Linked DNA regions of Homo sapiens: regions 2 and 3 are each linked to region 1. The links come from fine-mapping of genetic effects on gene expression. A gene starts in region 1. Each other region holds a variant in brackets. All regions are shown on one strand. Distances are from middle to middle.

Region 1 (4,256 bases):
TGCTTGTGGAATGAACACTGACAGGTTTCCCCCTCCCCCAAGAACAACAATCACTAGTCTGTAGGGAGCTTCAGTTCTCTGCCCAGAGCTGCGGGTTTCTTCTTCTTTTTTTTTCTTTTTTTTCTTTTTTTTTTTTTTTTTTTTGCAGGAAGCAAGCCATGTGCATCAATTATCAGGAACGCTTTAATCCAACTGGGACCCCAAACAAACACCCCGTTTTAATCCCGGGTGAAGTGATACAAACAATTTACAAAGCCTCACGACCCGGCAGCAACCCGAGTAAGTAGACCGTGATCTTGCAGACAATAAAATGCAAGCCCGTGCTCATACATTGTAGGGGATTGAATGCGCCTTAAACAAAAGGATGCTATCTCCAAAATAGCACGCTCACTGCCTTTGCTGGGCACTCAGCACGGTACCTGGCCTGTAGGTTGTCAGATTCCACTGGGCTTAGAATAAAATCCAAACTCTTTACCGTTGCCTCCTAGGTCTTACGTGATCTGGCGAAACTCATCTGCCTCCTAAGCTCCAACGCCACTGCTTTTCTTTCCCTGTCTCCAGCACTCAGCTCCTTCGGGTCTATGGCAATTGTACTTGCTGTTCCTCCTGCCTGGATTAGTCCTACAGCTTGCCCTGACTGCATCCTTCTCATCATTCAGATCTCAACGCAAGCATCACCTCCTTCCTCTGAGGCCTTGGCCTTCAACATCCCATTCCCTACCCCACATCATTCCAGACTGGAAGCTCTAGAGCTGGCATTAGAACACTGTCTGGCCCACAAGCCTTCAATACTTCAACAAATGCTTGTTGAATCCAAAAACGCTGATTACCCTTCAATCTGCCAGCTCACCCCACTCCCTCTCAAAATACCTAGGAGAATTAATTTACAAAGAAAACATAAGCAAGCGACAGCGTAACACATCGACTCAAAACAAAGCCGGTAATCCGGGGCTGAACTGGTCAACGGCATTTAAAGAAGGCCCCAAGAAAACCCTTTCCTGATCGTGCACACACTTTTCAAGAGGCGAAACCAGGGGGACAGGGCGGTCGGCGGCGCAGCGCTGCCTACCTTGAACTCCGCGGAAAGTTGGGGCGTGTATTCGCGAGTCCAGAGCGCGCGCACCAGCGCCGCCAGCTGCTCGGTGACCTCGGCGCGGCCCGGAGCCGCCCGGTAGCGCCCCAGCGCCAGGAACTCGGCCAGCAGGTCGGTGTTGCTGAGACACTGCACCACCGCGTTCATGAAACAGGTGTTGCCGTGGTTCTTCAAGCCCTGAGCGCCCGGCGGCCGCGCCCCATCGCCGGCGGGGAGCTGGAGCTGGGGCTGGGGTCCGGGCGGGCGTTCCTCCCCGGGGCTCCCGGGGGCCGCTGGAACTGGGCCCGGGGCGCAGGCGAAGCCCCCCTCACCGTCGCCATCACAGTGTCCCGGCTGGGGCCGGGGCGGTGAGTCCCCGGGGCGTGAGCGGCTGCCCAGCGCCAGCAGGAAGCGGCTGAACAGGCGGCGCAGGGAGCGGCGGCGGCGGGGCCGGGGCGCGAGCGGTCCCCCTCCTGCCGCGTCCCCGGGGCCCAGGTCCATGGCTGCCGCCGGCGCAGCTCCAGGCGCGGAGCCCCCGGGCGCGAGGCGGACGAGCGGCCAGCAGGCCCTACAGCTTCTCTAAGGCTCCTGGTGCCGGCTACCTGCGGGCCAGGTGTGCGGGGACGGGGCGGAGGCGGAGCCAAGGGCGGGGCAGCCCCGCCCCGCGCGGGAATCCGGCGGCACGACCAGCCCCCTCCAGGGCAGCGCCGGGCCACCCCTACCCCTGCCTGGTGCCGCCCCCGCTGCGCTGACTGGGAGTCTTCGTGGTCGGATTCCCCACCCTTCCTTACCTCGTAAACCGACAGACCTGGGTTTCGCCGCTGCTCCTGTTCCTCGAGCAGCCTTCAAGCAGTGGAAATTACGGAGAAATGAACATTCTGAAAGCGCCTAGTAAATGGTAAAGGCCTGGCTACTGCAGGAAGAAAAGGGCAAGGCAGGCATCTCCAGAGCACAGCCTCGGGCGTGGTGAGAGGCGCGCGCTGGGCGCTGTGTGGGGGTGGGGAGCGCTTTTGTGCACCGCTGGTTCCTCCGCAGGCTCAGGTGTGTGCGGACAGGTGTCGCCACCTCCTTCCAGACCGTCTGCCCCTTGGGGGGAGGCAGAGTCTGTGCCTGCACCCGCCAACCCGGGACCTGAACTGGGAGCCACGTGTTGCCCTGTGAAAAAAGCCCCCGAGTGGTTGTGGTTTGCTTTTTTACACCACAGATTGGGTTAGAATCATTTTCCAAAAACTTGCAAGACTTGATCACCCTTGCTTTAATCGGCAAGGAAGGGGGCTCAGAGAGGTTATCGCAACGTAGGGAGGCCGCCCGATCCGTAAGCAGGGAAACCGGAACTCGACCTGGATCTATGGACTGCCAAGTTCAGGCCCTTTCCAGCCTCAGTATTTGCTAACCAGGAAGTTTTCAGGCTCTCAGGCGCGCCCCCTACGCGGTTTCTGGTTCACTCCTTAACGCACGATCCTTGTTGAATGATTGCCCAATCAGAATTAGTTTGGCCTTGCCCCGCCCTTGATTCCCTGGGTAACCCTGGGCCCCTCCCCCACCCCTCACTTTATCCCATGCAACTGTCAGGTTTATAATTAATCAGGCAAGGTCTTGCAAAATGACTTTCTCGTCAATTTCTAGCTCAGGAAGAGATCAGCACCATGTGAGATGCAGTATTCTAACGCTCTGAAATGTTACTTGTTGTTTAATAAGTGATCATCATTTATTAAATATTCTTGATCCTGGCCGGGCGCGGTGGCTCACGCCTGTAATCCCAGCACCTTGGGAGGCCGAGACGGGCGGATCACCTGAGGTCAGGAGTTCAAGACCAGCCTGGCCAACATGGTGAAACCCCGTCTCGACTAAAAATACAAAATTAGCCAGGCGTGGTGGCGCATGCCTGTAATCCTAGCTACTCAGGAGGCTGAGGCAGGAGAATCGCTTGATTCAGTGAGCCGAGATCGCGCCATTGCACTCCAGCCGGGCGACAAGAGCTAAATTGCGACAAGAGCTAAATTCCGTCTCAAAAAACAAACAAACAAACAAAAAACTTGATCTTTCAAACCGGGTTACAGCAGTTACCTCATGCAAAAAAGCAGCCTTACTTAAAGGATAAATAACATGCTTAAAACATCAGACGGTACTGTGAATCGGAGACTTGCGTTCTGGAAAATGCCATTATTTACCCCTCTCTGGAAAAAGATACCCGGCTGGGTGATTAATACACAAGGACACAAGGTCCATTTCATCACCCTTCTGGTGGAAAGCACAGAAGAAAGATGTAATGGCCAACTCCAATAAAGCATCTCTGTAATTTCATCTTTCTTTGGTAATTGTCCTGAGATCCCCAACACCACACATTTTCTTTGAGAAAGCATGCATATTTCTCTCTACCCTGTCAGGAATTCTGCCGATGCTTTAGTACATTAGTCACTTAATTCTCACAATAACCTTTTGAGCAGGAACTTACTCTTGCTTGACAAAAGAGAAAATTGTGGCTCAGAGAATTTTTAAGAAGCCTGCCCAAGATCTGGATTTAAATCTGAGTCTAGTCCCATATAGCTTGACCAATGAAATGGCAATTAAGAAGGAAATTCACCTCACCTTATTTTTAGAGGATAATAGCAATGCTGTCTGTGCACAGATCATGAGGAAGGTCTGTGGGTTTTGCAGAGTTGCAGAAAACAAATTATAACAGAAAACCAACAACTAAGAATTTATTCAAAATGTTAAAAGTTCTAATTAGAGTCTGCACAAATTATTCTTGAACATACTTCAATTTTAATATGCAATTTAAGAATATAAAATGCATTCTATAAAGAAAAAGAGAAAAATTGACTCAAGAACAAAAACAGAGCTGTGAGAAATGAAGACTAGTGTTGGAGTTATCTAAACTCAGTCTTCAACAGGACTGCGTGCAACGCCAAGGCTCAGAGACATCTCATCAGCTTCAGGAGGTATATGGGTACTTCCATCGCAAAATGGCTCCATCGGCACTTACACTAACAATATATTGATTTCCTGGACTTATGCGGATGCGTGTGATGTTGCCACTGTGTCCCACCCCAACGTGAGTCACTTCACCCTCATTATAATCCCAAACTTTGACCAGATGGTCATTTCCACCTGAAAAAGATAAACACGTATATGGCATTGCTGCAATAGGAGAGAGAGAAACAGCCCTGATTTCAAATAACTG
Region 2 (4,256 bases), 39 kb before region 1:
TACCCCAGTTAGGATGGCTATTATCAAAAAGACAAGAAATAACAAATGCTGGTGAGGATATGGAGAAAAGGGAACTCTTATACACTGTTGGTGGGAATGGAGACACCGTGGAGAAAAGCATGGAGGTTCTTCAAAAAACTAAAAATAGAACCACCATGTGACCCAGCCATCCCACTACTGGGTATTTATCCAAAGGAAAGATCATCATGTCAAAGAGATCTCTGCACTCCTGTGTTTACTGCAGGGCTATTCACAATAGCCAAGATTCCAAATCAACCTAAGTGTACATCGGTGGATGAATGGAAAAGAAATGAAAAAGAAAATGTGGTCTATATACACAACGGAATACTATGCACCCATAAAAAAGAAATGAAATCCTGTTGTTTGCGGCAAGATGGATGAGGCTGGAGGACATTATGTTAAGTGAAATAAGTCAGGCACAGAAAGATAAATACTGCATGTACTCCCTCATGTGGAATCTAAAAAAGTTAATGTCACAGAAGTAGAGTAGAATAGTGGTTCTACTAGAGGCTGGGAGGCGCCAGTGGGGGCTAGGAAAAGGTTAGGTAATGAATAAAAATTATAGCTAGATAGGAGAAATAAGCTCTAGTGTTCTATAGCAATATAGAGTGACTATTGTTAACAATAATTTATTGTATGCTTTCAATAGCTAGAGGATAGGATTTTGAATCTTCCCAACACAAAGAAATGATAAATGTTTGAGGTGACGGTTATGCCAATTACCCTGATTTGATCATTACACACTATGTACATGTATCAAAATATCACTCCGTACCCCATAAATATGTACAATTATGTGTCGATTAAAAATAATGTAAATGCTTTTTAAAGCCAAACACAATACAAAATTGCCAATCAGAGAACCTTGTAACAAATGGAGACACTGCAATGTAAGCAGAGGCCCAGTGACACAAAGCCAGGTAGATGCTGCTGTGTAAACAGATTACTCAAAATGACCAGCTAGCTGGCAAAATCTCTTACTCACAGCAGGGAATAGAGTAAGACAAGCTTGGAGCCAGGGGAAGGCAAGGCAGAGACATAAATCCAGATGACACAACTTTGGTTGGGGTATCGAGAATATTCTCATCACTGGGATGGTATCCATGTCCCAACATAGTAAGCGCACAGCAGTGAGCTCATGGTGTACAGAATGCTGGGTGAGCCTGCGCCTATGGGCCCTAACTCTGCCGTGGGTACTCCTGGACAAATCACTAGCGACTCACTGCTTCCTGGCCTCGCTGCAGCCTGTGTGAAGACCCAATGAGGTAAGAATGTGAAATTGTTGAATAAAATTGGCTAAAGCAGAACACAAATATGAGGTGATCTGTCTGGACAGGCAAGGGCACTGTGCGTCCATTGTTGTATGGACAGATCGGTTTACTTAATCCATCCTGTACTGTGAGGCATTCCAAGTTTTTATTTAAACAATGCTTGCTTATCGCAGGAACTAGATATAACCTTGGACATAACCTTTGAGCGCACAATTATTCCCTTAGGGTAAAGTTCCAGAAGTAGAAAGACAAGACTAAAGCTCTTTCTTCCCAAACTGTCCTCCAAAGAAGCCATACCAATTTACCTGATTCCCCGGACTCTGGCCCAGAATGAGTATTATCAATTTCTAAAAATCATTTAACAATCTAAGAGGTTAAGAATAGTATCTTGCTATTGCAACCAGAATTTCTCCCACTACAAATGATGCTGATTTTTTTTTTTTTTTTTTTTTTTGAGATGGAGTTTCACTCTTGTTGCCCAGGCTGGAGTGCAGTGGCACAATCTCGGCTCACCGCAACCTCCGCCTCCCGGGTTCAAGCAATTCTCCTGCCTCAGCCTCCCGAGTAGTTGGGATTACAGGCGTGAGCCACCATGCCCGGCTACTTTTGTATTTTTAGTAGGGATGGGGTTTCTCCATATTGGTCAGGCTGGTCTCAAACTCCTGACCTCAGGTGATCCGCCCGCCTCAGCCTCTCAAAGTGCTGGGATTACAGGCGTGAGCCACCGTGCCAAGCTGATGCTGAATATTTTAACCTATGCTTGTATTTCTTCTGTGAACTAATGTTCATCTCTGTGGTTCATTTCACCAAGGGTATTTATCTCCTTAATTTTCAAGAGCTGGAAAATTCGAGGATGGACATAAATCCTTCACCTCTCACATGGCATAAATATCTTTCCTCATTTGTCCTTTGCCTTTCAAATTTGCTTTTAGTTTAAATTTTTAAATATATTTAAAACATCAGCCTTTTCCTTTACAGCCTCCTGACTTTGATGTTAAACTAGCCCCCACCCAAGGACATAAATATTCTCCCATGTTGTCTTTATTAATTTATTTTTTATTTTTTATTTATTAATTTTTTTTTGAGACAGTCTCGATCTGTC[G/T]CCCAGGCTGGAGTGCAGTGGTGCAATCTCGGCCGACTGCAACATTTGCCTCCTGGGTTCAAGCGATTCTCCTGCCATAGCCTCCCAAGTAGCTGGAACTACAGGTGCGTGCCACCACACCTGGATAGTTTTTTGTACTTTTAGTAGAGATGGGGTTTCACCGTGTTAGCCAGGATGGTCTCGAACTCCTGACCTCATGATCCACCCACCTCGGCCATCTTTAAGTTATTTCATGGCTTCCTTTTCTCTAGTTACCTCTCTAGTCAACCTGAAATTTATACGTGTGAATTCATAGCAGGAGTAAAAAGTTGACTATTTAAAATAAAAAGCAACAAAGAAATCAATTAGCCCAGCCTTACTTTTGAACAATTCACTCACTCTGTAGTAATATGAAATATACCATAATTCTGAAATTATTAAAATATTGTAATACAGGCAGAAGAATATGCAATTAAATCAAACAAAATAGACCAACTATCTGTAAGTATTTATTACATGATAAAAATGATGTATTTCATATTACTAAGAGTTAATGAATTATTCAATAAGTAAGGCTGGGCTAATTGATTTTTAAAAGCTGAGCTAATTAATAATAGTTTAATTATTATTAAATAATCTTTTTGTTTTTACCAGTTTATTATTCAAGATACATTTTTAGAAACATTTTATCCATCTAAATATATCTTAATGTAATTCTGTCTTTTAAACACTTTATTTGGGCTATATAAGAAAGCTATCTGTTTTTGTATATTTGTTATATAACCCATCAATTTCCTGAACCCTTTCCTTACTGCCAATCACTTTCCAGTTCTTGGTTTTCTGGACAGACAACCAAATTATCACCTCTTTTCTTATAGCCAGTTTCTTTTAGCACTGCACCGCCTAGGTTTTACAATATAAAATAACAGTGGTGAAGGCAGTAAAAATTGTTCCTCCGATTAATAGGAAGGCCTCTGATGTCTGATGGTTAGGAATGATGACGTTAGCCAAATGCTTAAGGCAGATATTTCTAATCCTCTTAATCAGAAAGGACCCTACTTCTGGCTCCTAGTTTATTAACCTTGGGAATAAATGTTTAATTTTACTCTAGACAGGCTCCCAAGTACAGGTCTACAAATCCCAGACACCACATGAAAAAAGAATAAAGTGAAACATACCTGCTAGCCTGCTGCCCTGACCCCACCAAGTTACAGAAGAGGATTAGCACCTTGCTCTCACTGTGGAGAGAGAGGGAGAATCGCTGGCCCTCACGGGCTGCCAGGCGTGGGGAGGCCGACAGACCCAGTGGATGAGCTAGAAGGGAGAGAATGACATTTGTTCATATTCCTAAAGGAGCTGCTTTCCTGGGTCAGAGCCTTAGCTTCTCTAGTCCCTCTTTCTCTTTGAGCATCTATTAACCACCAATGGGGGGCCACTAGAGGGCTTTAGGGGAGGAGATAATGAGGTTCATGGCATTTGTGCCATCTGACGCCTGGCATACGAACATCAAGAATATGGTAGTGAATTTGCAATTGTGTTCACCCAATAGTTTTTTGTTTGTTTAAGACAGAGTCTCGCTCTGTCCCCCAGGCTGGATGGAGTACAGTGGCACAATCTTGGCTCACTGCAAACTCTACCTTCCAGGTTCAAATGATTCTCCTGTCTCAGCCTCTCCAGTAGCTGGGATTGTGGATGTGCACCACCACGCCCAGCTAATTTTTTTGTATTCTTAGTAGAGATGGGGTTTCACCATGTTGGCCAAGCTGGTCTTGAACTCCTGACCTCAAGTGATCCTCCTGCCTTGGCCTCCCAAAGTGTTGGGATTTCAGGCGTGAGCCACTGCACCTGGCCATCACCCTATAGTTTTAAAACAGGAACAAGAA
Region 3 (4,220 bases), 62 kb after region 1:
TACAGGTGTGAGCCACCGCGCCCGGCCAACACTTTAAAAATAAGCCTTAGTTCAGCTAAAAGAAGTTGGGGAAATAGGTAATTTTATTTCACTGACAAAAACGTTCATCTAGTAATCACATCTTAAACTTTGATGTTTATAAAAATCCCTGAGGGATCCTGTTAAAATGCAGATTCTGATTTCAGGTCTGAGAAGGGGTTGAGATTCTGTATTTCTCATAAGCTCCTAAGTGATGCTGATGCTGGTCCAGCAAGTCCTACGGCCAATTCTCGTAATCCTAAAAAGCACGAATGCATGGAGTGTGAGCAGCCTGCTTGGGTGAGTGCACAGGCATAGGGAGAATGGGAGTCAACTACCTCAGGCAAAGGTTGGGTAAATATAAAAATTTGGCCTATTTTACTTCACAAAGCATAATATTCTCCAGGTTAATCCATGTCTTTACAAATGGCATGATTTCCTTCTTTTTAAAGGCTAAGTAATATTACATTGTGTGGCCAGGCACGGTTGCTCACCCTTGTAATCCCAGCACTTGGGAGGCCGAGGCAGGCGGATCACCTGAGGTCAGGAGTTCAAGACCAGCCTGGCCAACATGGTGAAACCCGGTCTCTACTAAAAATACAAAAAATTAGCTGGGCTTGGTGGTGGGCACCTGTAATCCCAGCTACTCGGGAGGCTGAGGCAGGAGAATCACTGGAACCCACGAGGCGGAGGTTGCAGTGAGCCGAGATCACACTATTGCACTCCAGCCTGGTTGACAAGAGCAAAATTCCATCTCAAAAAATGAACAAATAAATTAAAAAAAAAATACTGCATTAATCTGCTAAAAGAGTTGATCTTAAGTGTTTTCATCACACACAAAAAGTAACTATGTGAAGTGAATATGTTAATTAGTTTGATCGTAGACATCATTTCACAATGTATATGTCTATCAACACATTGTGTTATACACTTTAAATTGATACAACCTTAATATGTCAAGTATGCCTCAATATAACCAGGAAAATAATTTTTTTAACTTTCGGTTTCAGTTCTGAGTGCCCACCAGGTGCTCTGAAGAGCCTGGGACCTTTCATGGTGACACCTCTTTCCACAGGCAACTCCCGTACTCCAAATATCTGCCAAGGTAACACTACTGCTTCCATGTTAGAGAAAAGTTTGTATGCTTGAATGTAATTATTGTTTTGCTTGAGTTGGTAGTTTATTCACTAAAAACAGTTTCAGGAGAACAGGACCTTCAGCAAAAATAAAAGAAAATACAATGACCAACAACTCTGGGAATGGGCTGACCAGCCTGGTAAGAACAGGGCAGATGGCATCTGCAGAAGGCCCCAACATATTGACTAACTGCCTACCTGAGACTGCACATGTTTCACAAAAATGCTTTGATCATTATTCCTCTAATTTCCCTGATTCAGAGACTCAACTCGGTGAGGTGGTCTTTGAACGCTAGTTTATTGTCTCCCCTGGGTTGCTGGCTTCTCCAATAAAGCTAACCTTCCTTTCACCAAAGCTCATCTCTTGAGTTTTTAGCTTTCAAGTGACAAGTGGCCCAAACTTGATTTTGGTTATACCAAGAACCATCTCAACAATTATAAACCCTTGTAATATGTTTTAATATGAAACAGACCCAGGTCCTCCATTATTGCTCACCTATGGTCAGAATTTTTTTGATTGCTCTTCGTGTTTATTTTACAATACAAACTTGCATGTCACCTTGGCTATTTAAAATTCATGATTGTGTTTTTAGTGAGATAGTATTAAATGTATAGATTAACTTAAGGGAAAATGATTTTTATAATAATATAAAATACCTCTATTTTAAAAACAGGAT[A/G]TGTTTCTTCATAAGTCTCCTTTTATGCCTTCTAGTAGCATTTTCCATTTTTTTCATAAAGATCTCACTCATTTCTTATTACATTTATTCTTGGGTTTTTAAAAAACTTTTTTGTTGCTATCTCCTTCTCCATCGAAAGACTCATAAATATTTATTAATATAATCTTCTTGTTCTTAAATGAATGCTTCTTTTATATTTAACTCCCTCTGGAATTTATTTTGGTGCTTTATGTGATTCCTGTAGCTAAATGGATTATTTTTGCTCAAATGGCCAAATGTAATTATTGAATAAATGATTTTTTTTCATTTTAATTGAGTGTTCCTTTTTTATGCAGTATGTTCTTATAATACCAAGGTTTATGTCTTTAGGGTGATCTATTCCTACTAAAAATTTTTTATAGTTTTCTAATTGCAGGTTCTTTATAAACAATCATATGGCTATCCATATGGAAAAATTAAACTTAGATTCATAATTCACACCTTACACAAACAATATCTTCCAGGTAGATCAAAGACCTAAATGTGAAAAACAAGACAGTGTGTACAAAAGTAAGAAATGACTTTCCAACTATGACACAAAAAGAGCAAATCATAAAAGAAAAGGCTGAAATATTTACCCAGTTATGTGAAAAATGAAAAACATCTAGGCTGGGCTGGGTGGCTCATGCCTGTAATCCCAGCACTTTGGGAGGCCGAGGCAGGCAGATCACTCGAGGCTGGGAGTTTGAGACCAGCCTAGCCAATATGGCGAAACCCTGTCTCTACTAAAAATACAAAAATTAGCTGGGCGTAGTGGTGGACACCTATAATCCCAGCTACTTGAGAGGCTGAGGCAGGAGAATCGCTTAAACCTGGGAGGTGGATGTTGCAGTGAGCTGAGATTGTGCCACTGCACTCCAGCCTGGGTGACAGAGTGAGACTCTTTCTCAAAAAATCAAAAAATTTAATTACTAAAGACATTGTTATTGGAAGGATGAAGAGAAAAACACAAACAAGAAGATATTTTCAATGTATACAATAGACAAAGGATCATCTCCATAATATACGAAGAACTCCTACAAGGCAATAAGGAAAACATATGCTTCTCAATAGAAAAATGAGCAAAGGATATGGATAGCCAGTTTATGCTGAAGGAAATTCAAAACCCAATAAACCTACAAAAAGAGATGCAACCTCATAAGTAACCAGGAAAATGTAAATTATGTCCGAAATGAGATACCATGTCATATCCACCAAAATGGCTAAAATTAAGATGGCTGACAGTACCAGGCATCTGTGTTGATGTGGAACAAAGCCAACACTCATAAAATGCTTGGTGGGAGAGTAAATCGGTCTAATCGTTTTGGAAAACAATGTGTCTTTATTGATGATGCTTGAATGCGCACATGCCCCAGGACCCAGCTACTCTATTCTTAGGTGTGCAACCTGCCCAGAGATAACCTTGTAACATGCAGGTGTGTATTTCTTCAGATTTATTTTTGTTTTTGCATTTAAAAATTATGGTTCTTGGTTGCAAACTAGAAGAGTCAACTCTGGCTAAATGTAGCAGAAAAAGAATTATATGGAAGGAATACATATTGCTCACACAACTGGCAGGAAGTTTGGGTCACACTTGAAAAATGGGCAGAACTAATAGCAAGGCGAGACCAAGTGACACGAACTAAAGACCTCTCATGGCCACACTGCTCAACGCTCAATGCTCCTTTGCATCACTCCTATAAGAGTGGAACTGCGGAGTGGGAATGTCTGATTGGCTGAGCCAATTATGTTACATCTCTCAATTGGCTGCCAAGGAATTAGGAGAGAAAATATGTGCCTCTTTTAGGCTCTCACTAAAGCAATAGAACCAGCTCCTACCTATCTTGGGATACTTCTCAAATAGAATAGTATTCAGATATGAGTAACCAAAACTACGCATGTCCACTACAATTCATATTCTTTGCTCTCTTCTCCAGACATACTCACACACACTCCATTTTCTCTCTCTCTCGCCTTCTTTCCCTCCCTCTCTGTCTCCCTCTGTCCCTCCCTCCCTCTCCTCTCTCTCTATCCCCTCTCTCTCTCTCAAACATATGTACACTTTAAACTGTAATAGGCTCATATCATATACACTGTATGGCAAATTGCATTTTATACTTAATATATCTTTGACATCTTTCCTCATTAGTTTATATACATCTATTCCATTTTTCTTAAGGATTGTACAGTATCAAATTGCACAAAAGGAATATAATTTTAAAAATTATTGGAGTGAAATTCACATAACATAAAATTAACTGTTTTAACGTGAACAATTCAGTGGCATTTAGTGCATTCACAATGCTGTGCAACCAGCACTTCCGGGTTCACGCCATTCTCCTGCCTCAGCCTCCCGAGTAGCTGGGACTAC

Which allele goes with the higher level. Positions count from the first base shown, and alleles are read on the strand shown. Sizes are in standard deviations (SD) of each study's normalised expression.
For the expression in liver of the gene that starts at base 1,689 in region 1, G is the low allele of the variant in region 2 and T is the other (large effect, 0.86 SD a copy in GTEx).
With allele A in place of G in region 3, the expression in NK cells of the gene that starts at base 1,689 in region 1 is lower (large effect, 1.0 SD a copy in Schmiedel 2018).

Evidence for each region. PIP is the estimated chance that this variant, and not a neighbour inherited with it, causes the effect.
Region 2: its variant is the best candidate, but not a certain one, in a credible set for the expression of USP43 in liver (GTEx, PIP 0.54).
Region 3: its variant is the best candidate, but not a certain one, in a credible set for the expression of USP43 in NK cells (Schmiedel 2018, PIP 0.61).

Annotation. Positions count from the first base shown.
Region 1 is chr17:9,642,950-9,647,205 of GRCh38, reverse strand. USP43 (ubiquitin specific peptidase 43) reads right to left here and starts at 1,689. Exons shown (of 15, transcript NM_153210.5): 1 at 1,070-1,689. The coding sequence starts at 1,573. It overlaps CFAP52 (cilia and flagella associated protein 52), which reads right to left. Exons shown (of 14, transcript NM_145054.5): 14 at 3,759-4,183. The coding sequence ends at 4,008. LOC124903924 (a long non-coding RNA gene) reads left to right here and starts at 1,779. Exons shown (of 2, transcript XR_007065615.1): 1 at 1,779-1,970; 2 at 2,699-3,376. LOC107985011 (a long non-coding RNA gene) reads left to right here. Exons shown (of 3, transcript XR_001752790.2): 2 at 149-279; 3 at 489-1,101. RefSeq lists enhancers at 1-111, 801-1,448 and a silencer at 1,757-1,816.
Region 2 is chr17:9,682,254-9,686,509 of GRCh38, reverse strand. It overlaps USP43 (ubiquitin specific peptidase 43), which reads right to left. Exons shown (of 15, transcript NM_153210.5): 7 at 3,552-3,687. Among named protein-coding and RNA genes, the nearest start is that of USP43, 39 kb to the right of the region's middle. The variant G/T (reference allele first, on the strand shown) is at 2,395.
Region 3 is chr17:9,581,194-9,585,413 of GRCh38, reverse strand. The region is part of intron 1 of CFAP52 (cilia and flagella associated protein 52); the gene reads right to left. Among named protein-coding and RNA genes, the nearest start is that of CFAP52, 6.7 kb to the right of the region's middle. The variant A/G (reference allele first, on the strand shown) is at 1,832.